Homo sapiens: one gene and its partners. The protein of the gene in region 1 interacts with the protein of each later gene in a pairwise test. Each region holds a gene or a part of one and is shown in the gene's direction. Other genes may lie near its edges.

Evidence for each region.
Region 2: the proteins of CRX (region 1) and SPG21 interact in binary tests that used the Homo sapiens proteins (3 or more experiments, as listed by UniProt).
Region 3: the proteins of CRX (region 1) and SOX14 interact in binary tests that used the Homo sapiens proteins (3 or more experiments, as listed by UniProt).
Region 4: the proteins of CRX (region 1) and SMAP1 interact in binary tests that used the Homo sapiens proteins (3 or more experiments, as listed by UniProt).

What each region holds. Positions count from the first base shown.
Region 1 is NC_000019.10:47,816,977-47,825,012, forward strand, and holds the start of CRX (cone-rod homeobox protein), read left to right. Parts: upstream 1-4,960; 5' UTR 4,961-5,034; intron 5,035-8,036. Other genes in the region: TPRX1 (tetra-peptide repeat homeobox protein 1), read right to left, coding at 1,492-1,562, 1,996-2,075. UniProt on the Homo sapiens protein: Transcription factor that binds and transactivates the sequence 5'-TAATC[CA]-3' which is found upstream of several photoreceptor-specific genes, including the opsin genes.
Region 2 is NC_000015.10:64,965,666-64,973,263, reverse strand, and holds part of SPG21 (maspardin), read left to right. Parts: intron 1-3,041; coding exon 3,042-3,150; intron 3,151-3,901; coding exon 3,902-4,009; intron 4,010-7,598. UniProt on the Homo sapiens protein: May play a role as a negative regulatory factor in CD4-dependent T-cell activation.
Region 3 is NC_000003.12:137,759,713-137,767,103, forward strand, and holds SOX14 (transcription factor SOX-14), read left to right. Parts: upstream 1-4,602; 5' UTR 4,603-5,072; coding exon 5,073-5,795; 3' UTR 5,796-6,622; downstream 6,623-7,391. UniProt on the Homo sapiens protein: Acts as a negative regulator of transcription.
Region 4 is NC_000006.12:70,670,423-70,678,020, forward strand, and holds part of SMAP1 (stromal membrane-associated protein 1), read left to right. Parts: intron 1-7,598. UniProt on the Homo sapiens protein: GTPase activating protein that acts on ARF6. Plays a role in clathrin-dependent endocytosis. May play a role in erythropoiesis.

The sequences.
Region 1 (8,036 bases):
TATGATCTCAAATGGTGGAACAAGGGAGATCAGTGTCCTTGCCCTGGGGATCAGCCTGGGAGGCCCAAGGCTAGTTCTCAGAGCTGTGGAGTTCGGCACCCACTGGGTCCCAGGTTCCCACCTGAGCAGTTGTTCTCACAGGTAAGGCCTGAATGCTCACAGCCACCTTGTGGTGCAGACACACAGATAACTCCATTCTACAGGCAGGGAGACTGAGCCTGGGAAGGAGGGAGGTGCCCACAGGTCCCAGCTTCTCACACACTGCATGAACCACAGACCTTGGGAACAAGATCTCAGGGAACAATAACTCCATGGAAACTTCCTCCCAGGCGGCTTCTGGTATCATCCCCACTTTACAGAGGAGGAAACTGAGGCTGAGAGAAGTGTAGTCTCCAGTTCTGTCTCCCACGTCAGCGGCAGAGCCAGAGCTGGGCCAGCACCTGCCCCGGAGCCTGTGCCCTCCTGATCACCAGGTGATATGGCCTCTTAGGATGCTCGCCACAGCCCCACGGAGCTCAGAGGTCCCTTTCTCAGAGGAGGAAACTGAGGCTGAGAGAGGTTTCGTCAATTTCCGAGGTCACACAGGTGATGAGTGGAAGAACCAGGGGTAGAATTTAAATCTCTTTGGCCCCCGAGCCCCGCTCTTCACCCCCGAGTCTGCCTGGGATTCCTAGAAGATGGATGAGGTCAGCTTCCTCCCCTGCTCCCATGGGATTCCCAGGGCTCATTGTGACAGCTTGTCACTGTATCCACTTTGCAGAGGAGGAAACTGAGGCCCAGGAGCCCATATGAAGGGCCCAAGGCCACGCAGTGAGAAAACAACAGGATTTAAACCCAAACTCATGTGGCTCCATGCCAGCTCTTGGCAAGACCCTCCCGACTCAGCCATGTTCAGGGCCCTCCCTTGTTGGCCCTGCCAGCCTCTCTCTGCCGCATCCGTAGGCTCCTCTGTCCAGTGAGGACAAGGAGCTGAGTGGATGCACCCACTACCAGGCATGGGACCTGGTAGAAGCAGGGATTCATGGCACAGTTAGAGCCTGAATGAATTAACTCAGGAACAATATGATCCCTGAAGCATCCAGAGATTCAAACACTAGTGGGCAGCCCCACAGTCTGACCTCACAGTGCTGCAATCACAGACCCTTGGTCCTTTTGGGAAAACATCACACCACTTCTCTGTGCCAGTGTCTCTACCTGGTTCTGCCCCACCATCCATCCATCCATCCATCCATCACCCATCCATCCATCCATCCATCCACCCATCCATCACCCATCCATCCATCCATCCATCCATCCATCCATCACCCATCCATCCATCCATCCACCCATCCATCACCCATCCATCCATCCATCCATCCATCCATCATCCATCCATCCATCCATCCATCCATCATCCATCACCCATCCATCCCTCCATCCATCCATCCATCCATCCATCCCTCCGTCCATCCATCCATCCATTTCTTTCACATTTATTGAACACACACTTACTGCTGTGTGTCTGGGACAGTCCTAGGTACTGGGAATACAGCTGAGAACAAGACAGACAGGGCCCCATCCTCCTGACAAGGGCAGACAAGAAACAAGATGTCAGTAAGAGTTTTGCAAAAGATTAAATAGGATGAATGTGTTAGGGAGCTAAGGGGGTGCAGGTATGAGGAGCACCCCCATCCTGCAGTAGAGCCTGGAGTGAAACTCATCAACAACCTGATCCAAGGATCCTCCAGTATTCCATACATCTTCAGACTGTCCCCAGAATTTAACCCCACTTTTTTTGTTTATTATACTTTAAGTTCTAGGGTACATGTGCACAACGTGCAGGTTTGTTACATATGGATACATGTGCCATGTTGGTTTGCTGCACCCATTAACTCATCATTTACATTAGGTATTTCTCCTAATGCTATTCCTCCCCCTGCCCCCCACCCCACAACAGGCCCCTGTGTGTGATGTTCCCCACCCTGTGTCCAAGTGTTCTCATTGTTCAATTCTCACCTATGAGCGAGAGCATGCGGTGTTTGGTTTTCTGTCCTTGTGATAGTTTGCTCAGAATGATGGTTTCCAGCTTCATCCATGTCCCTGCATAGGACATGAACTCATCCTTTTTTATGGCTGCATAGTATTCCATGGTGTATATGTGCCACATTTTCTTAATCCTTAACCCCACTTTTTCCAGCTGCAATCATGTGCATTACAATAAGTCTCAAAGTCAGGTAGCGTAAGTTCTCCAACTCGTTTTATTTTTCCAAGACTGCTTTGATTATTCTAGATCATTTATATTCCATAGCAACTTCAGAATCAGTTTGACAATCAATTTCTACAGAAAAATCCTGATGAGATTCTGATTGGGATTGCAGTAAATCTAAAGATTAGTTTGAGAAGAATTGACCTCTTAATAACATTGAGTCTTCTAAACCATGAACATGGTATAGTTCACTATTGACTTGAGTCTCCTTTAATTTCTTCCAGCAGTGCTTTATATTGTTTCAGTAGGATAATGATCTGATAGAAGAGATGACAGGACTTATGGATGGATTGGATGTAAGTGGTGAGGAGAAAGGGGTTAGGGGCCAGGCTGAGTGCCCAGATTTCTGCCTGAGCCACTGGGTGGAGATGAGAAGGAAAGCAAGTTGCCTCAGAAGACCTAGCTCAGAGAAGAAGTGCTTGGATTTGATTTCAGCTTACTTGATCCCAGGGCCATGTGCAGGACCAGCTGAAACCCACCTCTCTGTACCCCCACCCCTGGAAGGACTCTGGATCCAGGAGCCAACCAGTACCCAGATTCCCCAGGGCAGGTGATTTAAGAGTTGCTGACACCTTCTCTGTCCCGCTGGAAGTTATTTTCTCCTCCCTCTCCCTGTACAGCTGACCTTCCTTCCCTGCTGCAGGGCCAGGGGGTCTGTTCCAGGACTGGATTCTCCCATCAGGAGCCTCTGGACTGGTCGCCGAGGGTCAGACGGCCCCTCCCTCTCTTGCTGTCATCCCTGGCTCTTCAAGCTAATGAGACCTGTCCTGATTCCTCAGCCAGGCCTGTAGCCTTAATCTCTCCTAGCAGGGGGTTTGGGGGAGGGAGGAGGAGAAAGAAAGGGCCCCTTATGGCTGAGACACAATGACCCAGCCACAAGGAGGGATTACCGGGCGTGTGTGTGTGTGTGTGTGTGTGTGCTTGCGTGCGTGTTTGGGTGCACGGGGAAGTGAAACAGACCCGTGTGGGACCCAGGAGCTCAGGGACATATTAATATCTAGAGAGACAGACGAGAGGAGAGAGACACAAAGAGGGCCAGAGACCAGGAAAATCAGAAATACAGAGCAACAGAGGTACCAAGACAGGGAGAAGGACAGAAATGAAAGGAAATCCTCCCAGCTACTCGGGAGGCTGAGGCAGGAGAATTGCTTGAACCGGGGAGGTGGAGGTTGCAGTGAGCCGAGATGGTGCCACTGCACTCCAGCCTGGGTGACAGAGCAAGACTCTGTCTCCAAACAAAAACAAAACAAAACAGAAATGAAGGGCAATCCAGGGAGAGGGGAAGCAAGAATCAGAGAGAGAGAGAGAGAGAGAGAGAGACAGGGAAAAAGAGAAGGAGGAACAGAGATTGGAGCTGCAGAGGATAAGCGAGGACAGAGGGACAGAGATGAGGCTGGAGTTACAGGGACAGGTGGACAGGCAGAAAGACAGCAAAGGGAGGGACAGACAGACAGGAACAGAAGGACATGGAGGCTGAGGGAGAGGGGAGAAAGAGCAAGATAGACAGGGAGACACAGAGAAAAAGAATAAGAGAGACCAAGGGGATAATGCAGGTTTATCAACAGAGACAGGGACGGAGAGGAGCAGATGGAGAATGAAAGAGTGGTATTCAGGAAAGTAGGCAGAAATGCCACAGCCTAAGGCCCACAGGAAAAGAAACTGAGGTACAGAGAAGCCAGACAAAGACCAATGGTGTGTAGAGAGATGGTGAGTGCTGGGTTTGTTGGCTCACGCCTGCAATCCCAGCACTTTGGGAGGCCGAGGTGGGAGGATTGCTTGAGGCCAGGAGTTTGAAGCCAGCCTGGGCAACATAGAGCGACTCCATCTCTACGAAAATAAAAAAATTAGCTGGGCATCGTGGTATGTGCCTGTAAAGTCTCAGCTACTGGGGAGGCTGAGGAGGGAGGATCCCTTGAGCACAGGAGGTCAAGGCTGCAGTGAGCTGTGATCATGCCACTGCACTCCAGCCTGGGCGACAGAGTGAGACCCTGTCTCAACCAAAAAAAAAAAAAAGGAAAAAAAAAAGAAAAAAATCCCAAACCCCAAACTCCACCAAAAACAGAAAAACAAAACACCCTTTCTAATAAGTCTGCCTATTTTCAGTGCTGGAAGCAGCCCCTGCCACCTCCGCCCCCAAAAAGAGGAGAATATCATGTCTGACAACACAGAGACAGAGAGGCCACAGACAAGACTTGACCAAGTCAAAGAGAGAGAAACAGGGGAAACTGAGGCAGAAACCGAGACCAATGAGGCACTACAGAGATAAACTAGCTGTCGGACAGACTGTTGTGGAGAGAAAGGGGGACCCAGGAGAGGGATCCCGAAAGCTCCGTGCCTCTCTTTTTTCAGACGATCTCTCAGGACCATCTGACAGTGCTCTCCTTCCTCTTTGATGCCTCTCTCTTGGGATACTAGCTGAAGCTGGAGAGACACCAGTTAGACCTAAGGAAGGACTTCCCTGAGGAGTAGGGGCTTATGGTCACCGGCAGGAGCTGGGGCCTCCCTTCCCCATCAGCCCTAATTGCCAAGATGTCATGGGGGGAAGAGGAGGGGATTAAGCAGACGGGTGCCCCTCCCCCTCCCAGCCAATGTCACCTCCTGGTGCCCAGTCGAGTCCCCCACCTTGGCCGGGATTACCCTCCGAGTTCCAGGCCATGACAAATGACATCACTCCCGGCCCAGGCTTAAAATCTCCCCATGTGAGGGGATGTGTTTCCTTCAGCCTCTGCTGTCTGGCCGCTCTGTCTAGGTCCTGGGCCACGGGAGAGCCCCGTCCCTCCTTTCTGAAGGTGAGCGTCTGCAGGAGAGGCGGAGGGGACCGAGGAGGGGAGAAAAAAGAGAGGGGAGAAGTTGGGTTTATCTTATTCGTGGCTGTGTTTGCCGTGCTCTGCAGGTGATGTTTGCTGAATAGTCACACACAAAACAGAGGTGCCGTCCTGGCATTTGTGGAAACGGGGCTAGGCTGTGATTGCAGCAGGAGGGAGTAAGGTTAGACAGCAGGGACTGGCTGATGGCACTCGGGGCATTGGGAGGATTCAGGGTGGCTTGTGGGCAAGGGGGTCCCCTCAAGCCCTGACGGCATCCGGGGTTGGGGGCTTCTCACCGTGGTTCTAAGGCAACTCCTCAGCATACCGCTCTGTTGGATGTTCTTTAAAACTCTTAGCACTGCCTGAAATTTTCATTTGCGCGATGATCCACAAATGGCCTGTCTCCCTCCCTTGTTGAGCACTGATTTTTCCCCAGTGCCCAGCGTGTGGTTGGGATTTGCCTAAATATGTGTTGCATAGATGGATGGATGAATGACAGACAAGGGACGGAACAGACATATACGCAGAGAGCCCAGGTCTGTGGCTGCAACAGGAAGAACTCCGGGTGGACTTGGGCCTGCCCGAGAGAGCCAGGAATGTGATGACTGGGGATCACTGTGCTGGTGAATTGATCACTTAGGGCCTCAATGCACCCAGAGGCTCTGGCTTTCAGCCCAGGCTCTACTTCGGGACTGGGGAATCCTCACGCCCCCGCCCTCTTAGCTTCCAGCACAGTCACTCTCTCTGATCTTCTTTCTGCAAAGTTTTTTTTTGTTTGTTTTTGAGATGGAGTCTTGCTCTGTTGCCCAAGCTGGAGTGCAGTGCCACGATCTCCACTCACTGCAACCTCTACCTCCTAGGTCCAAGGAGTCCATCCACCTCAGCCTCTTGAGTAGCTGGAATTACAGGCGCGTGCCCCCATGCCCAGCTATTTTTTGTATTTTTAGTAGAGATGGGGGGTCTCTCCATGTTGTCCAGGCTGGTCTCGAACTCCTGACCTCAAGTGATCAGCCCGCCTGAGCCTCCCAAAGTGCTGGGATTATGGGTATGAGCCTCTGCGCCCAGCCGGTCTCCTGCAAAACTCTTGATTGACACCTTGTTTCCCGTCTGCCCCTGTCAGGAGGGCTGAGGCCTTGTCTGTCTTGCTCTCGGCTGTATTCCCAGTGCTTGGGTCAGTCCTAGACACACAGTGAGTGCTCAGTGAATATGCAGGGAATGAATGAATGAATGAAGGGCAGAAGGGTAGAAGCAGGTAGACAGACTGCCACAGAGAGGAGGTGTGATGCGGTTTTCCCAAAAGGAACGAGCGAGGGCTGTGATTGCCACAGAGTGAGGTCCGACTTCAGGGCTGCCCACTGTGTGTGAATTTCTGGATGCTTCAGGGATCACATTGTTGATCACGGAGTTGATTTGCTCAGGCTCTAACTGTGCCGTGGATCCCAGCTTCCCCCAGGTCTCATGGCCGGCAGTGGGTGCATCCACCCAGCTCCTTGTCCCCGCTGGACAGAGGAGCCAACAGAGGCTGCAGAGAGAGGCTGGAGTGGCTGACAAGGGAGGGCCCTGAATGTGGCTGAGCTGGGAGGGTCTTGCCAAGGGCTGGCATGAAGCCACATGAGTCTGGTTTTTTTTTTTTTTTTTTGAGACGGAGTCTCACTCTGTGGCCCAGGCTGGAGTGCAGTGGCATGACCTCAGCTCAGTGCAACCTCCACCTCCCAGGTTCAAGCGATTCTCCTGCCTCAGCCTCTCAAGTATCTGGGATTACAGGCGTGCACCACCATGCCTGGCTTATTTTTGTATTTTTAGTAGAGATGGGGTTTCACCTTGTTAGCCAGGCTGGTCTCAAACTCCTGACCTCAGGTGATCCACCTGCCTCGGCCTCCCAAAGTGCTGGGATTACAGGCGTGAGCCACCACACCCGGCCGAGTCTGCGTTTAAATCTTGTTCTTTTCTCACTGTGTGGCCTTGGACCCCTCATGTGGGCTCTCTGGGCCTTGGTTGCCTCCTCTGCAAAGTGGGGACAATGATAAGCTGTCACCATGATCCAGCCAGATGAGCCATATTGCAGGCCTGGCCTGCAGTGGGAGCAGGGCAGGAGACCAGCCTCATTCTGTTTCTAGGGTCCCTAGGTAGACTTGGGGGTGAAGAGCGGGGCTCGGGGGCCAAAGAGATTTAAATTTTACCCCTGGTTCTTCCACTCATCACCTGTGTGACCTCGGGAATTGACGAAACCTCTTTCAGCCTCAGTTTCCTCCTCTGAGAAAGGGACCTCTGAGCTCCGTGGGGCTGTGGGGAGCATCCTAAGAGGCCATATCGCCGGGTGATCAGGAGGGCACCGGCTCCGGGGCAGGTGCTGGCCCAGCTCTGGCTCTGCCGCTGACGTGCGAGACAGAACTGGAGACTACACTTCTCTCAGCCTCAGTTTCCTTCTCTGTAAAGTGGGGATGATACCAGAAGCCGCCTGGGAGGAAGTTTCCATGGAGTTACTGTTGCCTGAGATCTTGTTCCCAAGGTCCATGGTGCATGCAGTGTGTGAGAAGCTGGGGCCCCCTGGAGGTCCTTAAGGTCATCAGCCACCTGAACTGTGGGCACCTCCCTCCCTCCCAGGCTCAGTCTCCCCCGCTGTAGAATGGAGTTATCTGCATGTCTGCCCCACCAGGTGGCTGTGAGCATTCAGACCTCACCTGTGGGAACAACTGCTCAGCTGGGAACCTGGGACCCAGTGAGTGCCGAACCCCACAGCTCTGAGAATCAGCCTGGGGCCTCCCAGGTTGATCCCCAGGGCAGAGACACTGATATTCTTTGTTCCACCCCTTGAAATCATAAAACATCAGTGTCTGGAAATTGTTGTCATTGTGAGATCTTGTATATAAAGCCTGGGCCAAGTGTCTGCCGAGTGATGAATTCCTGGACATTCTTTTTTTTTTTTCCTCCCCAGGAGACAGGTCCTCTTTCGATTGATTGATTTTTTTTTTTTTTTTTTGGGA
Region 2 (7,598 bases), on another chromosome or scaffold:
AGGTGTGATGGCTCATGCCGTACTCCCAACACTTTGGGAGGCCAAGACAGGAGGATCACTTCAGGCCAAGAGTTTGAAACCAGCCTGAGCAACATAGTGAGACCCCATCTCTACAAATAACAATAATAATAAATTAGCCAGGTATCATGGTATGCACCTGCAGTCCTAGCTACTCAGGAGGCTGAGGCAGGAGGATCGCTTGAGCCCAAGAGTTCAAGGCTGCAGTGAGCCACAACTGTGCCTCTGTACTCCAGGCTGGGTGACAGAGCAAGACCCTACTTCAAAAAAAAAGCCCAGTGAGTAAACACATCTGTATGATCAGTGTTTTCAAATAATGTATAGGGAAATATCGTTTTCACATCTACTTAAAATTGCACTCTGATATTTTTTAGTTTTTTTTGTTGTTGTTTGTTTTTTTGTTTGTTTGTTTTTGAGATGGAGTCTCGCTCTGTCGCCCAGGCTGGAGTGCAGTGGCACGATCTCAGCTCACTGCAAGCTCTGCCTCCCAGGTTCACGCCATTCTCCTGCCTCAGCCTCCCGAATAGCTGGGACTACAGGCGCCCGCCACCATGCCTGGCTAATTTTTTATGTTTTTAGTAGAGACGGGGTTTCACCGTGTTCACCAGTATGGTCTCGATCTCCTGACCTCGTGATCCGCCCGCCTCAGCCTCCCAAAGTGCTGGGATTACAGGCATGAGCCACTGTGCCCAGCTATTTTTTAGTTTTTCTGATGTTATCTTAGTAATTACTCAGCATTCATGCAACAATTTCTTGTATACATTAGCTACTTTACAAATCCTTCCCGTCCAGATAATGCACTAAATAATGCTCATTATTTTTGGTGATTTTTATTGCTGTTCTAATTGTTAGAATGCCAAGACAGCCCCCATTCAGTTTGTGCTCTGGCACATCAGCTGCTTATTGTCAAATATCTGAGTGCTTACTGTGTGCCACACACTGAGGATCCAGGAGTGAGCAAAGTCAACAGGGTCCACCCCTTACAGAGCGTACTTAGACCTCATCACCTTCAAAAGATAAGAAAGTGATGGGGCTGGGAGAGAACTTAGAAAGTTAACTGGAAGGTGACCTAGTGGTCCTTTTGAGGGAAGCTCAACTTCCAGCAAGGCTGTCCCAGTGGTAATAAGCATCAGAAGGTAGTTTGCACCTCATCTAAGTAATTTTCGTCATAGGTTTACAGAAATTAGTGTTTGCCCTCCATGATGGCTCTTAACAGTTGAAATTAATGGAATAAATATAAACTAAAGATCATATATAGAAATCCGTAAAGATCTGACCAGTCACAGTGGCTCACACCTGTAATCCCAGCACTTTGGGAGGCAGAGGTAAGAGCATTGCTTGAGTCCAGGAGTTCTAGACCAGCCTGGGCAACAGAGCAAGATCCTGTCTCTACAGAAAAAAAATTTTCTTTTTTGAGATGGGAGTCTCGCTCTGTTGCCCAGGCTGGAGTGCAGTGGCACGTTCTCACTGCAGCCTCTGCCCCCCAGGTTCAAGTGATTCTCCTGCCTCAGCCTCCCAAGTAGCTGGGATTACAGGCGCTGGCCACCGCCCCTGGCTAATTTTTGTATTTTTAGTAGAGACGGGGTTTCACCATCTTGGCCAGGCTGGTCTTGAACTCCTGACCTTGTGATCACCCACCTTGGCCTCCCAAAGTTCTGGATTACAGGCATGAGCCATTGCGCCTGGCTCAGTAAATTTTTTTTTTTGGAGACGGAGTCTGGCTCTGTCGCCCAGGCTGGAGTGCCATGGCACGATCTTGGCTCACTGCAAGCTCCATCTCCTGGGTTCACGCCATTCTCCTGCCTCAGCCTCCCGAGTAGCTGGGACTACAGGCGCCCGCCACCAAGCCCGGCTAATTTTTAGTATTTTTAGTGGAGACGGGGTTTCACCGTGTTAGCCAGGATGGTCTCAATCTCCTGACCTCGTGATCTGCCCACCTTGGCCTCCCAAAGTGCTGGGATTACAGGCATGAGCCACCGTGCCTGGCCCCGGCTCCCCCAGCTCAGTAAATTTTTAAAAAATTAGTCAGGCCTGGTGGTACGAGCCCGTAGTCCCAGCTACTCGGGAGGCCAAGGTAGAAGGATCACTTGATAGGAGTTTGAGGCTACAGTGAGCTATGATCACAATACTGCACTTCAGCCTGGGCAACAGAGTGAGACCCTGTCTCTAAAAGTTTTTTTTTAAATTTTTTAATTAAAAAATAAAAAGAGGCCAGGAGTGGCTCACGCCTGTGATCCCAGCACTGTGGGAGGCTGAGGTGGGTGGATCACTTGAGGCCAGGAGTTCACCACCAGTCTGGCCAACATTGCAAAAGCTCATCTTTACTAAAAATACAGAAGTTAGCCGGGCGTGGTGGCATGTGCCTGTAGTCGCAGCTACTCGAAAGGCTGAGGCATGAGAATTGCTTGAGCCCGGGAGGCAGAGGTTGCACCCAGCCGAGATCATGCCACTGTACTTCCAGCATGGGTAACTGACTGAGACTCTGTCTCAAAAAATAATAACAATAATAAATTTAAAAAATAAATCTATAAATATCAATTTGCCTTGAATTAGCCAAGTTGAATCTAATAGTAGCAAATTTGGGGAGGTGCAATAGCTTTCATATTGGTATTTTGAAATCTGTTTTGAAATATCAATCGATAAAAACATAATATCAACCAGAAGGAAAGAATACTTCTCTTAATATTCAGTTTTCCAAAAGAAATAGTTTAATCCTTGGAAATAGGGCCAATTAGAGAAAAAAAACAATCTTGGACTCATCAGAATGTCTATCTCAGTAAAGGTATTTTGAAATATCTCTTATAATTATCCTAAATCCTCAAATAAAAGTTTAATTATATGAAGCCATAACTCTTTGGAAGCTTGGGAAAGTGTGTGTAAAAACTAGATGCTGAGCTCTTTGGAGGAGGGGATTAGGACTTTTTATTTCTAGATCCCAAGCTAATACAAAGCTTTAATGTTGAATGAATATTTGCCATGTGTAGTCTTGGAAGTTTAAATTATAAGGTCTTTGTGTTTTACAGCTTTTGGCTGATGCCTGCATTTATGCTCAAAAAAATAGTTCTTGGAAATTTTTCATCTGGCCCGGTGGACCCTATGATGGCTGATGCCATTGATTTCATGGTAGACAGGGTAAGGATCATGACATTGGGTTGGGGACACATTGTATTGGGAATTTTCACATCTACTTGGTTCCAGAAGATAGATCTGTCTCACAAGTATGTGTAAGAGGTATTTGCTAAGCAGAGTAATACATCTGAGCAGATATTATTGCTGGTAAGGGCTTGCCTACATCAGTGCTTCCCACCAGCTATTCATCAAAATCACTTAGGGGAGCTTTCAAAAATACAGATTGTAAGGCCTCACAGCAGATCATCCATCTGGAATCCCTGGGCATGGGATCTGGGAATCTATTTTTACTTCACACTTTTCCTCTACCCACCAGGTAAATCTGATGAACCAGGTCTGTTGGCTTGCATTTAGGAACTGCTGGGCTAGATGATTTCTCAAATCTCTTTTAAGATCCCTTAAAGGTTTATCTTAAAAAAAAAAAAAAAACAAAAACATATATCTGTCACCTTTGAGCAGTAGGAATTGGCTTGCTGCCCATGGGCACCTGGCTGGAGTAGGCAGTGTAGGCTGAGGGCTGTAGAAGGCCGGGTTTCATTGGTTTGTACCCAGGTTTCCAGAATAGAAAAATGCCACAACCTCCTGAGAAGCCCAGTTCATGGTCTCTCACCTAAGTTGTGGTTCCTCACTGATGACTTTTCTGGCCCCACCACAGATGATACCACCTTTATAAGCACAAATGTTGTCTGTGGATTTAATGTAAATGTGAAAAACAAAATTATTTCAAAAACTTTACCTGTGTTTCTTCCTGCAGCTAGAAAGTTTGGGTCAGAGTGAACTGGCTTCAAGACTTACCTTGAATTGTCAAAATTCTTATGTGGAACCTCATAAAATTCGGGACATACCTGTAACTATTATGGATGTAAGCTTCCTTTTAAGTAAAATAGCTGCTTTACTTTTTAAAATGTGTATGTCAAGATCTCCTATAAAACTATTTGATAACTTTCAATGTACCTCTTCAAATGCTGCCTTGGCTTTTGTTTTTACCCTCCAGCTTTCTCAATTCCAAAATAATCTGTTTATTGCTTATCTTGGATTTCTTTCTGGCAGGAATAACACCATTGAAATCAAAATAGGCCGAGCACAGTGGCTTATGCCTGTAATCCCAGCGCTTTGGGAGGCTGAGGCAGGAGGATTGCTTGAGTCCAAGAGTTCAGGACCAGCCTGGGCAACATAGTGAGACCCTGTCTGTATTTATTAAAAAAAAATAAAAATAAAAATGAATCAAAATAAATTTAAACAAGGGAGTCTACCCATTTGATGTATTTTTGCTGTTCTCATCAATAGATATTGCACCATATATTGCACATATATGGGCAGCAAAGAGAAGGTGCTTCACAAGGGTAACAAGGGTAGAGAATCAAGAATTCCATAGTTTAATTACCACAAAAGCTTGCTTATTTTTTTATTGTGGTAAAATGTACATTTAAAATATGCCATTTTAACCATTTTTAAGTGCATAGTTCAGTGGCATTAAGTATATTCACAGTTCGGCAACCATCACCATTTTCACAACATTTTCATCATTCCAAGAAGAAATTGCATACCCATTAAACAATAACTCCTGTTCCCTTTCTTCCCCCGGCCTCTGATAATCAACGGTTTTATTTTCTGTCTATAAAAATTTACCTATTCTAGAACCTCATATAAGTAGAATCATACAACATTTATCCTTTTGTGTGGCCATTTCACTTAGCATAATGTTTCACAAGACTTATCTTGAAATGTTATACATGTGTCAGAATGTCATTTCTTTCTTTTTTTTTTTTTTTTTTTGGAAACAGGGTCTCACTCTGTTCCCCAGGCTGGAGTGCAGTGGTGCAATCTCAGCTCACTGCAACCTCTGCCTCCCGGGCCCAAACAATCCTCCCTCCTCAGCCTCCTTAGTAGCTTGGACCACAGGCTCACACCACTACGTTCGGCTAATTTTTTGTAGAGATGGGGTTTCACCATGTTGCCCATGCTGGACTCAAACTCTGGGACTCAAGCTGTCTGCCTGCCTGGGCCTCCCAAAGTGCTATGACAGGCATGAGCCACCACGCCCAGCCTATTTCTTTTTAAAGCTGAATAATATCTACCAATAAAACCAATGTTGGTTTATACCACATTTTGTTTATCCATTCATCCGTCAGTGGTCACTTGGGTTGTGTTCAGCTTTTGGCAATTGTGAATAGTGCTTCTATGAACATTGGTGTAAAAGTATATGTTTGGGCAGGGCACAGTGGCTCATTCCTGCAATCCCAGCACTTTGGGAGGCTGACTCAAGAGGATTGCTTGAGCCCAGGAATTCGAGACCAGTCTGGGCAATACAGGAGACCCTGTCTCTACTACTAATAAAGAAAATTAGGCCGGGCGCGGTGGCTCACCCCTGTAATCCCAGAACTTTGGGAGGCCAAGGCGGGTGGATCATGAGGTCAAGAGATCGAGACCATCCTGGCCAACGTGGTGAAACCCGTCTCTACTGAAAATACAAAAATTAGCCGGGCATGGTGGCACACACCTGTAGTCCCAGCTATTCGGGAGGCTGAGGCAGGAGAATTGCTTGAATCTGGGCGGTGGAGGTTGCAGTGAGCTGAGATCGCACCACTGCATTCCAGCCTGCCAATAGAGTGAGACTTCGTCTCAAAAAAAAGAAAAAAAAAAAAAGGAAAATTAGCTGGACATGGTGCCACATCCCTGTGATCCCAGCTACTTGGGAGGTTGAGGTGGGAGGATCACCTGAGCCTGGGGTGAGCCATGATCATGCCACTGCGTTCCAGCCTGGGCAACAGAGTGAGAACCTGTCAAAAAATATATGTATATTTGTTTGAGTTCCTGCTTTTAATTTTTTTTTATTTATTTTTAAATTATTTTTTAAAAATAATTTTTTGTTTTTTATTTTTATGGGTACATAGTAGATGTATCCTACTTTTAATTCTTTTGGACATATCGTTTGAAGTAGAATCACACTTTTTGAAGTACCACCATACTGTCTTCCACAGTGGCTATACCATTTCATGTTCCCACCAACAATGCACAAAGATTCCAGTTTCTCTATATCCTGGACCCTTATTTCTGGTTTTTTGGTTGATACTTATCCTAATGGATATGAATTGGTATCTCACTATGGTTTCAATTTACTTAAAAAAAAATCATATGATTATTTTGCCTTATAAATGGATTTGTTCCTAAATTCAAATAATATGGTTTTTTGTTTTTGTTTTTGTTTTTGTTTTTTTGAGACAAAGTCTCACTCAGTTGCCTAGGCTGGAGTGCAGTGGCGCGATCTTGGCTCACTGCAAGCTCCGCCTCCTGGGTTGACGCCATTCTCCTGCCTCAGCCTCCCAAGTAGCTGGGACTACAGGCACCCACCACCACGCCCAGCTAATTTTTTGTATTTTTAGTAGAGGCAGGGTTTCACCATGTTAGCCAGGATGGTCTCGATCTCCTGACCTCATGATCTGCCCGCCTCAGCCTCCCAAAGTGCTGGGATTACAGGTGTGAGCCACCGCACCTGGCCATAATATGGTATTTTTAATAATTGGTTTTTGTTGGGAAATTATTCATTATAAGCGTGTAAACAACTTCTTATCATCCTCTGCCATAATCGCTGCATTCTGACATTTGCCATAACATAGAACAAGCTTTTCAATGGTCCTCACAGGACATTTGCTCTGCCTGCCCTTCTTTCAAAGCTGTGCTCACTGCCTGGGTTCATGGTCACTGAAAACAGCCTGTAAGTTTTAGTTGGAGATGCACTTAAACATACAGATTTGGTATGGTATATTTAGTATACAATTTTTTTTGCTTATTTTACTTTTTGAAAAATTTTGTTGCATGTAAAAACGTAAATGTGTATGGGTATTGAAGGATGTCTAGAATCATATGCTGCAAACTGGTTTCCCCAAGAAAGAATAGCTTGTACTCTACATTTTTTTGGAATTTTTTTCACTGAGCCTAAATGACTTAGTTTATTGCTTTAAATTAATGATAAAAGTAAAAAGTTCTTTTGGGGCTTCGTGATCTTTTTGAAACTTATTGACATTTGCAATGATTGTTCTCTATTAATATTCTGTTAATCTACTTAGCTATATTTGAGGAAAAAGGAAATTCATGGTAGAATTTCCCCCGACCCCAGCCGGGCTTGGTGGCTCACGCCTGTAATCCCAGCACTTTGGGAGGCCGAGGTGGGCAGATCACCTGAGGTCAGGAGTTTGAGACCAGCCTGGCCAACATGGTGAAACCCCATCTCTACTAAAAATGCAAAAATTAGCCAGGCGTGATGGCGCATGCCTGTAGTCCCAGGTACTTAGGAGGCTGAGGCAGGAGAATCACTTGAGCCCAGGAGGTGGAGATTGCAGTGAGCCGAGATCACACCACTGCACTCTACCTCAAAAAAAAAAAAAGAATTTCCCCCCACCAAAAGAATGCAGGAGATGCTGTGCAGCAAAATCTGTAGCTAATGTCTTCGG
Region 3 (7,391 bases), on another chromosome or scaffold:
CCGGCATGGGCTGGGCTGGGTTGGGTTCTGGAGGGAAAACCCCGGAGAAATTACCAAGAAATGTCTTAATAAGACCAGAGCTCTGGATCCTCTGGGCACTCTCTAGAGGCGGGATATATACAGTCTCTGAATTTTAAAATAGAAAACAGTGGGCAGCGGGGAACGGAGTAGAGGGAATCAGAGGTGCCAAACATTAAAGATATTTTGGGTAATAAAAATTAAAAGTTCATGTATCGCAAGGACAAAAAACCAAACGCCGCATGTTCTCATAGGTGGGAACTGAACAATGAGAACACTTCGACACAGGAAGGGGAACATCACACACCAGGGCCTGTCGTGGGGTGGGGGGAGGGGGGAGGGATAGCATTAGGCGATATACCTAATGTAAATGACGAGTTAATGGGTGCAGCACACCAACATGGCACATGTGTACATATGTAACAAACCTGCACGTTGTGCACAGGTACCCTAGAACTTAGAGTATAATAAAAAAATTAAAAGTTTATGATTTAAACAAAGATTCTTATTTCCTGGGATCATTTTGTCACCTCAGTGCTTGCTTCTGGGTTATGGACACTTGGGGGGGTGGGCCGGATTAACTGTCTTGTCTCTAAACACCTGGGTGCGCTGGCGCTCACTCTCAGCTGCGAGCTGAAGCCCACGCTGCTCTCAGGCTTCCCGCAACAGGCACCTGCGACTTCGCTCACCAAAATCTTCCAGTGGCCACAGTGAGCGGGCAGGACTGGTGCCAGCAAGCCCCAAGCATCCCAGGCCCTCTGGACGCAGGTGACTCTTCTGGCCTCTTTGGAAAGCCATTGGAGCTCGAGAGGCATAGCCAGCTGCCTCCTTTCCGTCCATCCCCAACCGCGTTCTCTAAGCCACGTTCTGTGCGCCTTACTCCCAGCACTCAGCCATTCCCCAGCCCCAGAGGCCTTGGAGTAGTGACCTCTGCCCACCAGAGAGGAGGGGGCCGGAGGGTGGGGCGGAGCCTTGTGGCAAGGCAGGTGGGTGCAGGCCTCTGGGGCCCCAGACTGCCGCGTCTGGCTCTACCAGGCTGTGTCTCGGGCCCCGTGCCTGCAGCTGCAAGGCGGGGAAAGACCTATCGGGAAGATCCACCTCGGCCTGGGCAGAAGGAAACTTTACTGAGAGTCTTCTCTGAGTTTGGAATTATGCGGAAATTGAACCCAAGATGAATAACACGCAGCCACAGCCCCAGAGAAGCTCGAAGTCTAGTGGGCTGCACCGACTGCGACAGGGACCCAAAAGAGGCTGGGGAACAGGGATTGAAATGGAAGTGTGAGAGTGAGAGCATAGAAGGGGTCCTAGCCCAGCCCAGGAAACAGAAAAGTCTCCCCATAGACAGTGAGAGGCTTGTACTGATACCTGAGGTACGCGCAGGAGCTGCGTGAAAGGAGAGGCCCAGAGCCAGAAAAGAGGAAGGCGCATCCTGGACGCTCTGCGCCCTGGAGGGAGACGAAAGGCCCGGAGAGAAGCAGATTAGGTCGGTGCCCTTAGAGGCCTCTTCCTTCACTTCCGGGAAACAGCGGCGGTTCCCTGACAAAATCCCTGTTGCTCGGGGGTTCGGACGCCTTGCTAAGGCTGGCACGCAGCGGACCTTGAGTAGCTGCGCTGTGTACTGAACGTGTGCACAGCTTCTCCAGGCAAATGTGCAAGCGGAAAGACCTCATCCAAGCGTTATCTCCAGCCCTGGAGGAGAATGAACTGGTAGCCTGGGGCCAAACTTCAGGCCGTGGACAAAGCAGGAGGAGTATTTAGGCAACCTCTGTCCTAATGCTTGTTCTGGTTGTGACCGAAGTTGCTGACTCTCCTCAGGGGTCACGTCTCCAGGACGTGCTACCCGGTGGTTTAGACCCGTCAGGGAGGCACAGCGTGAAGGGACAGCGCAGCGCAGTAGAGGCACCTGCTGGAGACAGCACCAGGCCAGACCCCAGGATCACGGGAACTCCTGCTCCCGCCACAGCTCTAAAGAGTGTTGAATAAACCGGTGGTCACCGGTACTGCGTAAGGGGTGTGCGTGGCTTTGCAGTTCGCCTAGGAGACAAGCTGATGCACGGCCTGGAAGGTGCAGCCCTCATCCCTGCGTTCCCTCCCCGCGCGGAGTTCCTGTCTCAAGGCCAAGACGCGCAGCGCTGATGCTGGCCCCTTCCTAGGTCAGTGCAGCTGGACCAGGCAATCGGGGTCTCCGAAACGTCGGGGGGTCAGCTGGCGCCCTGCCCACCATCGAACGCCCTTCGTATCACTCCGCTCCTCATTGCGAATTGGACTGCGCATTGGCTGCGACCCAAGGCTGAACACAAGAAGCTTGGAGAGGAGCTCGGGCGTTTGAGGAGAAGGAAATATGAGGAATTGCAGGAAGGCGCTCGCCTGCCCGAACTGCCTCCGGGCAACTGGAAAGGATTGTCCTGGAAACTGAGAGGAGAGAAAGGACGTAGGACCTTGTGCCAGATCCCCTTGCTGAGTAATTTCCAAGAGCTTGGTTTGCATTAACCCAGAACTTTGGGTGTGCGTTTGGTGTCCCCTGGGGGGTTCTAGAGTGAGAGATTGGCGGGTCCCCTCCGAACGCTGGATCTCGCTGCAGATATCAGTATTTCTCTCATTCCTTCCCAAAGCCGTCGGGATCGCCCAGTAGAATTAGAATTGGGTGATTCCTGAATCTCCTATCCCTGGCTGGCTCTGAATATAGCGCACCGCTGGTCAGACCTGAGTAGGGGTTGCCAGCGACGCTCGGAAACCCTTTCCAGACTGGGCTGAAAAGTGCGTTTGCTTCCTGAGACCCTAAGCTAAATGAAACTTCCTGCAGAGAAAGCAGGGTTACAGGGCTGGATGGAGGCTCTGGAGAAAGGCCAGAGCTGGGGTTGGGAAGGAATGTAAAGGCTGTGCACCTGTTTGCCAGCCCTCGGAGGTGGAGCCCATGGCTAAGCAAATCAAGCGCAGGATCAGTCTTTCCAGCGTGGTTTATCTGCATGGCAGGTGTCGATTGCCCCAATAGTCTCATCAGGTGTTCCACATTGGGCTGCAGAGCCATGAAATCCCTAGGCGTGACGTCTAGTGGAATGGGGGTGAAAATAGGGATTTTCAAATCCTATACATCAAGCATCACTCCCAGAGTCACTTTTGACAAATCACCTAGTTTTTCTCAACCTTAGTTTCCTAATCTGTAAAATGGGGATATTGCCCACCTCTCTGAAAAGTGCGCCAAGGGTGAGAAGTTCCACGCGTCTTTCTAATTTTAGGAAGGGGAAGCAAAGTCTTCTCCTCAAACTTGATACACTACATGCTAGAGAAAGATCCTCCCTTCCGGCCTCCTCATTCCCTGTCACCCTCCCCCACTCCTAGCCCCTCGGAGCCAACGGAGCCTTGCGCGTTTCTGGCCGGTCCTCCCAAGAGAGAATGGTGCAAAAGCCAATAAGCCTGGAACACACGCAGGTCCCGCCGGGCCTGGGACAATGGTTTCCATTTAATAAATATTTCCCCCAAGGGCATTTCACATCGGGCAGGCAATTATTCAAAGGAAACAGGCGCGCAGGTTGGCTCTGCGGGTTATTTCGTCCTCTTTACCCGAAGAATGCTCATTTGACGCAAGAAACGAGTCTCGCAGCCTCCCTGGGTGGGAAGAGGCGCCCAGGGACAAACCGACCCTGGTTGCGATACACCGTGAGACTCCGCTGTAGGGCCGCTGCAGAAGGGGCACCGGGAAGAGCCCCATACCCAGCCTCTAGGCTCTTCTTACGGTATGAACATTTGTGGAGTAAAAGTTGGAGGTTTAAAGACACTAAATAATAATAACATAAATGGGAACTGCAATAGAAATCTCAGCCCCATCCCTGCCCCAAAAGTGAAGAACAGGTCGTAGTGCTTTTAAGGGCTCACCAACTAGGGTTCGAAATCTCTGCATTGCCTGACGCGAGGCCTTCCAGGAGCAGGTCAGACAACATTGCTCAGCCACCCAGGGTCCCAGCGCTACGCCCGGGCGCCGCATCCTGGGGCAGGGGTGGATGCCTAGTTGCAGGGGCTTCCCGGGAGAACACTGCCAAAGCACCGCCGAGGGTGGGGCGCGAAAAGTTTATTTCGCTTTTACCCTGAGCCTGCTATATGTTATTTTTCTCTTCCAAGGATATTTGACAAGAGGGCAAAGTGCTGTCCTTGCATTTCGCGGCAAAGCTGTCCTATTTATCAACACAAGCTCTCGCCTCGCTCCCTTTGCTGTCCCTTCCCCGGCCTTTGTATTTCAAGCCCTAATTCTCTTTCACAACCGGGAAAGGAAACAGGAGACGCGGAAGAGTTTTATTTGTTGACAGTGCCCGAGACAATGTGGAACCGAAGTCCCCAGTCTAGAGCTAGCCTCTCTGCTCTAGCCCTCTCTCTGCCTCTGTCCCTCACACCTCTCCCCGCCCCCACCAGTCGCGCTCTCTGTTTCTTGCACCGGCGTGTTGGCAGGTGCGCCCCCTCGGCTTCTCTGCTGCTGATTGGCGCCCAGGTTGGGGAGTCGCCGCCCCGCGCTTATGTCAGAGTGCGTGCAGTCCCGGCCCACCTCGCCTTTGAACTTCGCCGCTTTTGGCTCTCGTTCACCAGCCTCCCCGCATTCTCAGCCAGGTGCAGCGCTAGGCGCGGCAGCTCCGGGAAAGCCACGGGAAGGGGGAGCCACGACTGGAAACGCAAGAGGAGAGAAGGGAACTAGAGAAGGCAAAGGTGGAGAGGGGGAGAAGGAGGAGCTTCTTGCCCTGGCTAAAAAATTACCTGGCCACTTAATCCCGGAGACTCCGATACTTGGGTCCCAGCCCCTGGTGCCTGAAGCCCCCCGGCCGATCGCCCTCTCCTCCCCCGCCCTTTCTGCCCCCACTCGCTCCCCCGGGGCTGCCTGGGCGCTGGGACTGGCATGATCAGCTGAACTTTGTGGGGTCAGCGCTTCTCTCTGGCTTCCCCTCAGCGGCGCCAAGGCGAGGGGAGCGCAGAACCCCGGCTCAGGACGGACAGACAGACGGCCAGCCGCGCCCAGGCTCGTCTGCAGAACCCTTGCACTCCCTACCCCCACCCACCTAGCCGCCGGGACCATGTCCAAACCTTCAGACCACATCAAGCGGCCCATGAACGCCTTCATGGTATGGTCCCGGGGCCAGCGGCGCAAGATGGCCCAGGAAAACCCCAAGATGCACAACTCGGAGATCAGCAAACGCCTAGGTGCCGAATGGAAGCTTCTGTCCGAGGCAGAGAAGCGGCCATACATCGATGAAGCCAAGCGGCTACGCGCCCAGCACATGAAGGAGCACCCTGACTACAAGTACCGACCTCGGCGCAAGCCCAAGAACCTGCTCAAGAAGGACAGGTATGTCTTCCCCTTGCCCTACCTGGGCGACACGGACCCGCTCAAGGCGGCTGGCCTGCCCGTGGGGGCCTCCGACGGCCTCCTGAGCGCGCCCGAGAAAGCCCGGGCCTTCTTGCCGCCGGCCTCGGCGCCCTACTCCCTGCTGGACCCCGCGCAGTTTAGCTCGAGCGCCATCCAGAAGATGGGCGAAGTGCCCCACACCTTGGCTACCGGCGCTCTGCCCTACGCGTCCACCCTGGGCTACCAGAACGGCGCCTTCGGCAGCCTCAGCTGCCCCAGCCAGCACACGCACACGCACCCGTCCCCCACCAACCCTGGCTACGTGGTGCCCTGTAACTGTACCGCCTGGTCTGCCTCCACCCTGCAGCCCCCCGTCGCCTACATCCTCTTCCCAGGCATGACCAAGACTGGCATAGACCCTTATTCGTCAGCCCACGCTACGGCCATGTAACCCCCAGCCCGGCCCGGACCTGAGGCGTGGTCTGAAAGCCGGGTCTGCACCCTGTCCTCTGAGCCTAGCCCCGGCCTGCAGACGCCTCCGGGGTCAGCCCTGCCGCTGTCCCTTACACCACCCAGACTTTTCCTCTCTCTTCCAGGGGGAAGGGTGGGGCGTCCTCCCGGACCCAAGGCGCAGACAGGTACCGGAAACTTGCAAACGTTATGTCAGCTACACAGCTGCCCCTATCCCGACTCTCCCAAAACAAATCTCCGACTGTACCCCCTTTGGACAAAAAAGTAGGCAGTTTTGCTTTATTTATATCCCCTTCACTCTCCTCGGATAGGCTTTGGACTCTGAACTCCCAGATTCTGATATTATATCTACAATATGCATATATTTTTTCCTTTTGTCCCCTGAAGAAAAGAGTTAGCTGTGTCTCTGTGTTTTGCCATCAGACACAACTAGGAGCCATTTGCTCTTCATGTATGGGGGGGAAAGGCTTCAAAGTTTTAAATTACAGAAAGGGAAACATTTCTATTTAAAACCATGCTATGATAGTGTTTGCTTCTTTAAAGGGAAAACAAAAAGGACCTACATGGTTATTTACTTTGTGTAAAGCAGTGCTTCTAGAGATCTAAGTTTACTTTTAGACAGAATGTCGGGTTATGAAGTCAGGAAGTAGAAGGTGAACAAAAAATTAAAAGAACAAAAACAACCTAAATGGTCATAAATGTTTTGACGATGTCTTGGAAATGTACCTAGAAGGATTTTACCTCGTTGCTCTGTTCATTTGTTGAACAAAGACGTTTTGAATAAAGACAATCTGTCATTGTAAAAAAGTAACCTTTGATGTGCCTAAAATCTGAAGTCAGGAGCCAGGTTGGAGGGACTGGAAAGTCGGGTGCGGGGAGGCTGAAAGTGCATAGAGCGACTTTAAGCAGTGATGGCTGGTGGCTGCCCCCCGTTGGCCCAGCTTGGTGGTCTGCGGGTTGGGTGTAGAAGGGCCTAGAGCTTCGGATCCGTCCGGAATGCGCCCTGGAGATTGCTTTTTGCCTTTAGAGGCTAGACAAAGGTATCGTTCCCTGGGACTTCACTCTCTCCTCCCATTCTTCCCAAAAGGGTCAGGCCACTTCAAGGAATGAATGAACTAAGTCAAAGGCCGACCCAGACCGCTGAGATCTGGGTGAGTTTACTTTTTAAAAAACCAAACGCTGAAGGAGCAGGGAGAAGCACCGAGTCTCCTGGGAACCAGTTGCGCGCTGAACACCCCGTCCTGCATTGGATGTTTAAGTTCAAAGCATGGGAGAAGACTGGGGGAATCAGGTATTCTGCCTTTTTAGGTGTTTGGAAAGGCTGCTGCCCACTCTTCTGGGGATTTGGTGCTTGATACTGGTTCCTAAGTTAAAAAATAAAACTCTAAGAAATGCAGAAAAATGTGCCATAGGTCCCTGCCCCAGAATGTCGAACACTTTTTGCTGAGACCCTGCAGGAGCAAAGGGAAAAGGAAGGCGACATTGTCATGGCTCAGGCAAGGAGTTTTTAAAAATCGTAAAAAATCAAATAAAAGCACAGCCCATGACGTTAAACAAGGAAAAGAGTCCTTTTCTT
Region 4 (7,598 bases), on another chromosome or scaffold:
GATAGAGCAATTGATGTAAATATATTTTCACAGTTTTTGAGTATTTGGTAAGGTTGAAGTACATTATGGAGGCTTTTTTAGTAGAATTCTTGGCTTGTTACATGATTTTGGATCTATATGCTAGGATGACATAATAAATATAGTACTTTTAAAAGATATGTTAAAGGTCTTACTCTACAGCTCAGTTACTAAGAAGTTTCATTCTGTGTATGTATTGATGTTTTCTTCACTGTCTAGTAAATTGCATCAAACTTTTCATGTACTGTATTTCAAAGTTATTTCCTAGTTAACTCAATTTTCTTTCTTTCAAAGAAGCTTCTTCCACTGATCTTTGAGAATATGTACCAAAACTAAAGCTTAGGATTTGAGGTGCCTGTATTATCTTGCCTTATCATAGTTGGTAGAGGTATGTCAATTGGGTTTTGACATTTTCTTACTGAATCACCAGCTGTGTTTCCTGGATTGACAGTATTTAGGAAGCAACGAAGGAGAAAAGGATGGCATAGGCGCCAGTTTCCTGCTCTTGATCCTGCTCTTACCAAATCTGTTGAACAACTGGAGAATTTAAGAACAGGCAGATGGAACTACTCCTCCTCTCTCCTAGCTGCATTCATGACTCAGTGGGAGTTTAAAGCAGCTCTTGTTGGTTATTAGTTGGTGGCACTTTAGGGAGCAGTGAGGACTGGGAATGCCTTGCCAGCTTCAAGTTTAGTTTTCAGTATTTAAAGTGTTATCTACAGGTAATTCTAGCTTTGATTTTTGTTTTTTTTTTTCACTTCTCTATTCTTTCACATGCTCTGAATAGGGCATCTTGTGTTGGACATCAGGAGTAGCCTGAACTTGGCTGAGTAGGGCTCCTAGAAAACATCGCTGGGCTTGGCAGGTACCACATTGACATGTCCCATGCTTGTTAATGTATATTTCTGAGATTTTAAAAGTGCATTCAAGACCAGCCTGGCCAACATAGTGAAACCCCGTCTCCACTAAAAATACAAAAACCATTAGCCAGGCATGGTGGCAGGCACCTGTAATCCCTACGTGGGAGGCGGAGGCAAGAGAATTGCTTGAACCTGGGAGGCGGAGAGGCGGAGGTTGCAGTGAGCCGAGATCGCGCCACTGTACTCCAGCCTGGGTGACAGAACAAGACTCCGTCTCAGGGAAAAACAAAAACAAAAACAAAACATATAGATAAAATTCACATTGAGCGGTTTCTTCCCACTATCCCCTCTCCCCAGCCCTTGGCAGACACTATTGCATGTTCTATCTCTGTAGGTTTGGCTGTTCTGGATATTTAATATAATACAACATATGAACTTTTGTTTCTGACTTTGACTTCATATGTTTTCAAAGTTCATTCATTTTGTAGCATGTGTCGGTACCTCACTCCTTTTATGGCTGAATAATATTCCATTGTATGGATAGACCACAATTTATCCGTCTATTGATGAACATTTGGTCTGTTTCCATCTTTTGCTAGGTTTGATTTTGAGCATGTTTAAATTGGTATGAAAGTGAGTCTCTTGCCCATTCAATTTTGGGTAGTCAGAAACATAAGGTTTTTTAACTCTAGAGATTGTTTTGTTTAGCCTGTCTGATATTGAGAGGGTAAGCTCATTGCTGAGATCAAACACTCGTTTCTTTGTTCCGCAGATCTTGACTTGAAGACACACTGTTAGATATTGTATTAGGTAAGAGAGCTAAAAAAATTTGTAAGACCTAAAGGAGTTTGTTTAGTGTGGGTTGTGTTTTTGCAAATAAATGATTCTAAAACGATGTGCTAAGTGCTTGTAATAATGGTTTTAAGAAATAACTACCTCTATACTTATTTTGGGCTGTTGTTCCCCTTGCACCTTGACTTTTGCCCATTGGTGGTCTTTACAGTTCCTAGAATGCTGTTTCAAGACCTTTGCACGTGCTGTTCTTCTGCCTGGGAAGCTTTCTAACAAGTTTTTGCCTGCTCAGCTTTTGCTCATCTTTCAATTCCTGCTTAAATGTCTTTTCAAGGGAAATAATTCTCCTTGATCCTCTGAGATTAGGTTAGGCTTCCGTTTATACATAAAAGACAACACCCTGAATCTTTTATTGCACTTATCACAATTGTAATTAAACATTATTTAGGTAATTATGGGGTACACTGTATCCCTGCTGGATTATAGCTGTAAGAGAGGAGACCTTGTTTATCTTGGTTAGGGTAGTATCCCCAGTTTTCAGGACATGTGGTAGGCAAATGTAACTTAGCAAATATTTTTTGAATGAATGAATGTGTGAATGAATGAGCACAGAGCCCCTGGCAGGCAGCAGGGTGTGTGAAAGGGAGTGCACCTGTGAAAGGGAGTGGCATGTGGAGTGACCCTGTTGGGACCAGTCACAGAAGGAGTCTTCATTTGAGCTAGGTTCTGAAGGTGGAGTGGGATTTCATCAGATAGAGAAGGAATTAAAGGACACAGCTGCACACACACATGTACCAGTATGAAAGAACAGAAGAAGTTTCCATACGGCCCTTACTAGATAAGCTTTCTTTAAGCATGATCAGTTTTGGTAGTCTCAGGTCAGAGGAAGAACTGGGATAGTGAGGATTGCAGGCAAATCCTGAGTTAGGAGATGTTGAACAGTGGTCCAAGAAGAGGGCAAGAGGACCTAAATTCACACAATGTCAATATATAAGTCAGGGTATAGAGCAGGAAAGAGATCCACTGTAGCTATTTTCAGGAATCAGGTACTTACCAAGTCATTGGAAGGGCTGGAGGAGGGAAAGTCAGGGAGCCACTGCTGAACTGCTTTCAAGGCCACACATACCACCACTGCTACCGCTGCCCCACTGTCATAACTGCTTCTCACCCAGGAGACTGGTATGCTGATGGGGGCATAAGGCCTATGGAGCTGCAACCACTTAGTGTCTGTAGACGTTTTTTGTTAGTTGCCCTTTCTGTAGGAATGTGGCCTCTGTCCCACTTGTGCTTTCCATGTGCAGATAATTGGCAGATCCTAATTATGTCCAATACCTTGCCTTCAAGGGAGTCTTTTAGCTTTCTAACTTTTTCAAAAAGTAGAAACGTGTAGAGCCCATTTGATTGCAAGAGCCAATCCAAGAGTTCATGTTTTTCATTAAGTCTTTGATATTTTAGAGTTGTTACTTTTAAAGTGTAGTAATATTTACTAAAAAGTAAAGTTCACCTTGGGGAACTGGTGTTTATTATGATGTTGATGCTTATAGGACAAATTTATATAAGTGAAAGTCTGATTATAATTCACCTAAAGAAATTTGCCAATCTAAAAGTTTCCTCAAAATGTGAAACTTCAGTCTGATGGGTCTGTTGTTCTTGTAATTCTGCTGATCTCGAGGTTTTTCCTGATTGGGCAGAGCCCTGGTATCAGAGCTGAGATGGAAATCATTGGTCTCTGACTCATCAGTTTAAAACTTGGGCTGCATGTTGTCTCCCCTCCTTTTGTTCTTCACAGTTCTTCTTTGTCTTTTTTGTTTGTTTGTTTGTTTGTTTAAGATAAAACTTTCAGTACTTGACTTCATTAATTAAGGAGGCTTACATCTCCTAAATTGTTGCTGTACAAGATATATATATATATCTTTCTCCACCTTTATTAACCTATAACAGACTTGAATCCATGCTCTCTTTAAGGCAAAGTAGAATGTTTAAAACGATATACTTTATAAACTCAAAAAAGTGCTTTGGCATTTTTTTTTTCTTTTTTTTTCTTTTTGGTACAGGGTCTCACTCTGTCGCTGGGCTGGAGTGCGATGTAGGCTCTCTGCAACCTCTCCCTCCTTGGTTCAAGCAATCCTCCCACCTCAGCCTCTCAAGTAGCTGGGGCTACAGATGTGTGCGACCATGCCTACCTAATTTTTGTATTTTTTGTAGAGACCACGTTTCGTCATGTTGCCCAGGCTAGTCTTGAACTCCTGGGTTCGAGTGATCTGCCTCCCTCAGTCTCCCAAAGTGCTGTGATTACAGGTGTGAGCCACCACACCCAGCCCCTTTTGCTTATTTCAAACGCTTCTACTAATCGTCTTTTCACGGATTAGAATTAAGCCATTTTAGTTCAGTTTCTCAATTTTCTCAATGAAAGAAGATCAAAGAAACTTGGAGGCCATTTTGTAGTTATTATCAGAAGAGTTGACCGCCTTACATTCTTACCACTGTAAAGAGTTGATTTAACAGACATTTAATTTTGTTGATAAATCAATATTTTCTGGGCACTAAAAAGATTAAGTACTACGTTAGATACTACTGTGTGTGTTAAAAAAGTTTTGGATGCCGGGTGCAGTGGTTCATGCCTGTAATTTCAGCACTTTGGGAGGCTGAGGCAGGTGGATCATCTGAGGCCAGGAGTTTGAGGCCACCCCTGGCCAACATGGCAAAACCCTGTCTCCACTAAAAATACTAAAATTAGCCAGGTGCAGTGGCACATGCCTGTAGTCCCAGCTACTCGGGAGACTGAGGCAGGAGAATTGCTTGAACCCTGGAGGCGGAGGTTGCAGTGAGCCGAGATGGCGCCACTGCACTCCATCCAGCCTGGGCGACAGAGTGGGACTCCATCTCAAAAAAACAAAAACAAAAAGTTTTGGATATAGTTGTCTACAAGCTAGTTAGAGATCTCAGTAGACATGAAACAATTACCAGTTAACTTCTAATCTATGTTTACATTGGTAGATTCATTAGAAGTTTAGAGATAGGGTAGCTCCATTGTGACCTGGAGAATGTTAAAAAAAAAAAAAAAGCAAATAATAACATTACATATATACTCACAAATTATATAGTGTTTTTTTTTTTTTTTTTTTTTTTTTTACCAGAGATGATGTACTTCACACTTTACATATACTAACTCATATAATCTTCAAAACAACCTTTGAGGTAGGTAATATTATTACCCAGGTACACAGAACTTAAAGTAGTGGAGCCAGAAATTTTTTCATTAAAAAAATTTTAGGAGGCCTGGAGCAGTGGTGTACACCTGTAATCCCAGCATGTTGGGAGGCCGAGGTGGGTGGATCACCTGAGGTCAGGCGTTTGAGACCAGCCTGCCCAACATAGTGAAACCCCATCTCTATTAAAAATACAAAAATTAGTTGGGTGTGGTGGTGCACTCCTGTAATCCCAGCTACTGGGGAGGCTGAGACAGGAGAATCACTTGAAACCGGAATGCGGAGCTTACAGTGAGCCAAGATCGTGCCATTGCACTATAGCCTGGGCAACAGAGCGAGACTCCATCTCAAAAAAAAAAAAAAAAGAAAAAAACAACTTGGAGGGGAGTGACTGGCACTTTCTTAGGACCTGGGGATTAGCAGGGGATAGGTAGATAAGGTTCATGCTCAAAAGGATCTGTTAGTCATTGGTGTGGAGAAAAGAGTTAACAAAGCAGGCCTTGCGGTGGTTGGCTGACATCTGAGGGGAATCTTGGGGATGGTCCCACCACCCTAAGTGATGAGTCTGTCATTGTGCCTAAGTTGTTTGTATAATAAATATGGTTTATGTTGAATATCTGCTTTTCTTCTGGGATTCTGGAATTGGCATATGTGCCAGCCAGGGTTACCTACATGACCAGTCTCCCTAATAACCTTTGGCACTGAGTCTCTGATGAGCATCCCTGGTTGGCATCATTTTACATGTGTGGTCACAGCTCACTGCTGGGAGAATTAAGTGTGTTCATTGCAACTCAACTGGAAGGGAGCACCCGGACGCTTGCTCCTAATTTCCCCTGGACTTTTTGTGCCTTTCTCCTTTGCTGATTGTGCTTAGTATCTTTTTGCTATAATAAATCATAACGATGAGTACAACTGTATATTGAATCTTTTGAATCTTCTTAGCAAATTACTGAACATGAGGGTGGTCTTGGGGAACTCAAAGCATAATTGGTAATATATATTTTCTTCCAGTATATTATACAGGACATGTTGGAGCCTCAGTATATCTGTGCTGGCTCTATAACCTAGCCTGCTAATAAGGGTACAGTCTGGAGGAGCAAGGATGAACATTAGAGGCTTTTATAACCTGGGGAAATTGTGATTTTATTGAGATGAGATAGGGGTGGGAATCTGAACTGTAGAGTCAGGATTTGAGCCCGGGAGATATAGTCTGTGCTGTTAACTATGTTTGATGGTATGATAGATAAAACACCTGTTTTTGTTGTAGAAATTTGTGATGTAAGAGATTGTTGTTGGGAAGACTGTCACCTTCGGCTAACTTAAGGTTTTTCTCAGATTATTGCCAAATGTGTTCAAATGTGGACAATATCTTCATTTTAGTTTCCCTCCTTGCATTTAATAGCAGAACCACCATAACTTCAAAATACCAGTTTAAACAAATTGGAATTTTTGTCTCATCACTAAAGTTTATTTTATTTATTTATTTTTTCCTTGTTATAGAGACAGGGTCTCATGCTGTTGCCCAGGCTGGGGTGCAGTGGCGTGATCATAGCCCATTGCGGCCTCTAACTTCTGGGCTCAAGTGATCCACCTGCCACAGCCTCCCAAGTAGCTGGGACTACAGGCTTGTCACCATGTATGGCTAATTTAAAAAAAATTTTTTTGTTGGGTGTGGTGGGGAGGGGCCTTGCTATGTTGTTTGGGCTTTCAAACTCATGGCCTCAAGCAATCCTCTTGCCTAGGCCTCCTGAAGTGCTAGGATTAGAGGTGTGAGCCACCTCACCTTGCGTAAACTTTATTTTAGAAACTTACTGAGTCCACAGATAAGTGCTTTAGTGTTTTTCTTTGTTTTTTGTTTTGTCTTCATATATATATATAATTTTTTTTTTTTTTTTTGCTATATCCTTAGGTCAGATACTGGTCATCTACCTGGGCTTTTTAAACCATAGAAACAGCATGATAGAATTGAAAGAACACTAGCTTGGTTGAGCAAAGCTAGGATTCAGTCCAAGCTTTGCCTCTGACTTGCTTAGTGACCAGTTGTCCTTGTTCTCTTTAATCCTTATTGCAAAGATTTATTTCAACCTTGTATGGTCTGTGTTCTTTCTTGAATCCCATACCTTGTCACTTCTTTTTTTTTTTTTTTTTTTTTTTTTTTTGAGGTGGAGTGCCAGTGGCTCGATCTCGGCTCATTGCAAACTCTGCCTGCCGGGTTGATGCCATTCTTCTGCCTCAGCCTCCCGAGGAGCTGGTACTACAGGCGCCCGCCACCGCGCCCAGCTAATTTTTTGTATTTTTAGTAGAGACGGGGTTTCGCCGCATACCTTGTGACTTCTATGTCAGTGTTTACTATTATTATTAAAAAATTATATTATTGAGAGTTTATTTTTTGAGTCCTATTGAGATATGGATTGTCATCAAACTTTTATAGTTTTTATTTAAAGCTTTTCACTGATGATTTAGGTCTTGCTGAGCAAATTTACCTAGTATTATCTTTAATTATCCCAAGCTATATCACACAACTCATACAACTCTTCCCCACAGGTTGAGGAGTCCTTTTGTTTAAAATTGTTTCACTGTAATGCTTTCTTACTATTAATGTCAGTATTTCTACCTCAGATGTTAGGTAGAACTGTGTTTAACTTGGAGTGGCATTTAGTTACTCAGATGTTAGGTAGAACTGTGTTTAACTTGGAGTGGCATTTAGTTACAGTATCAT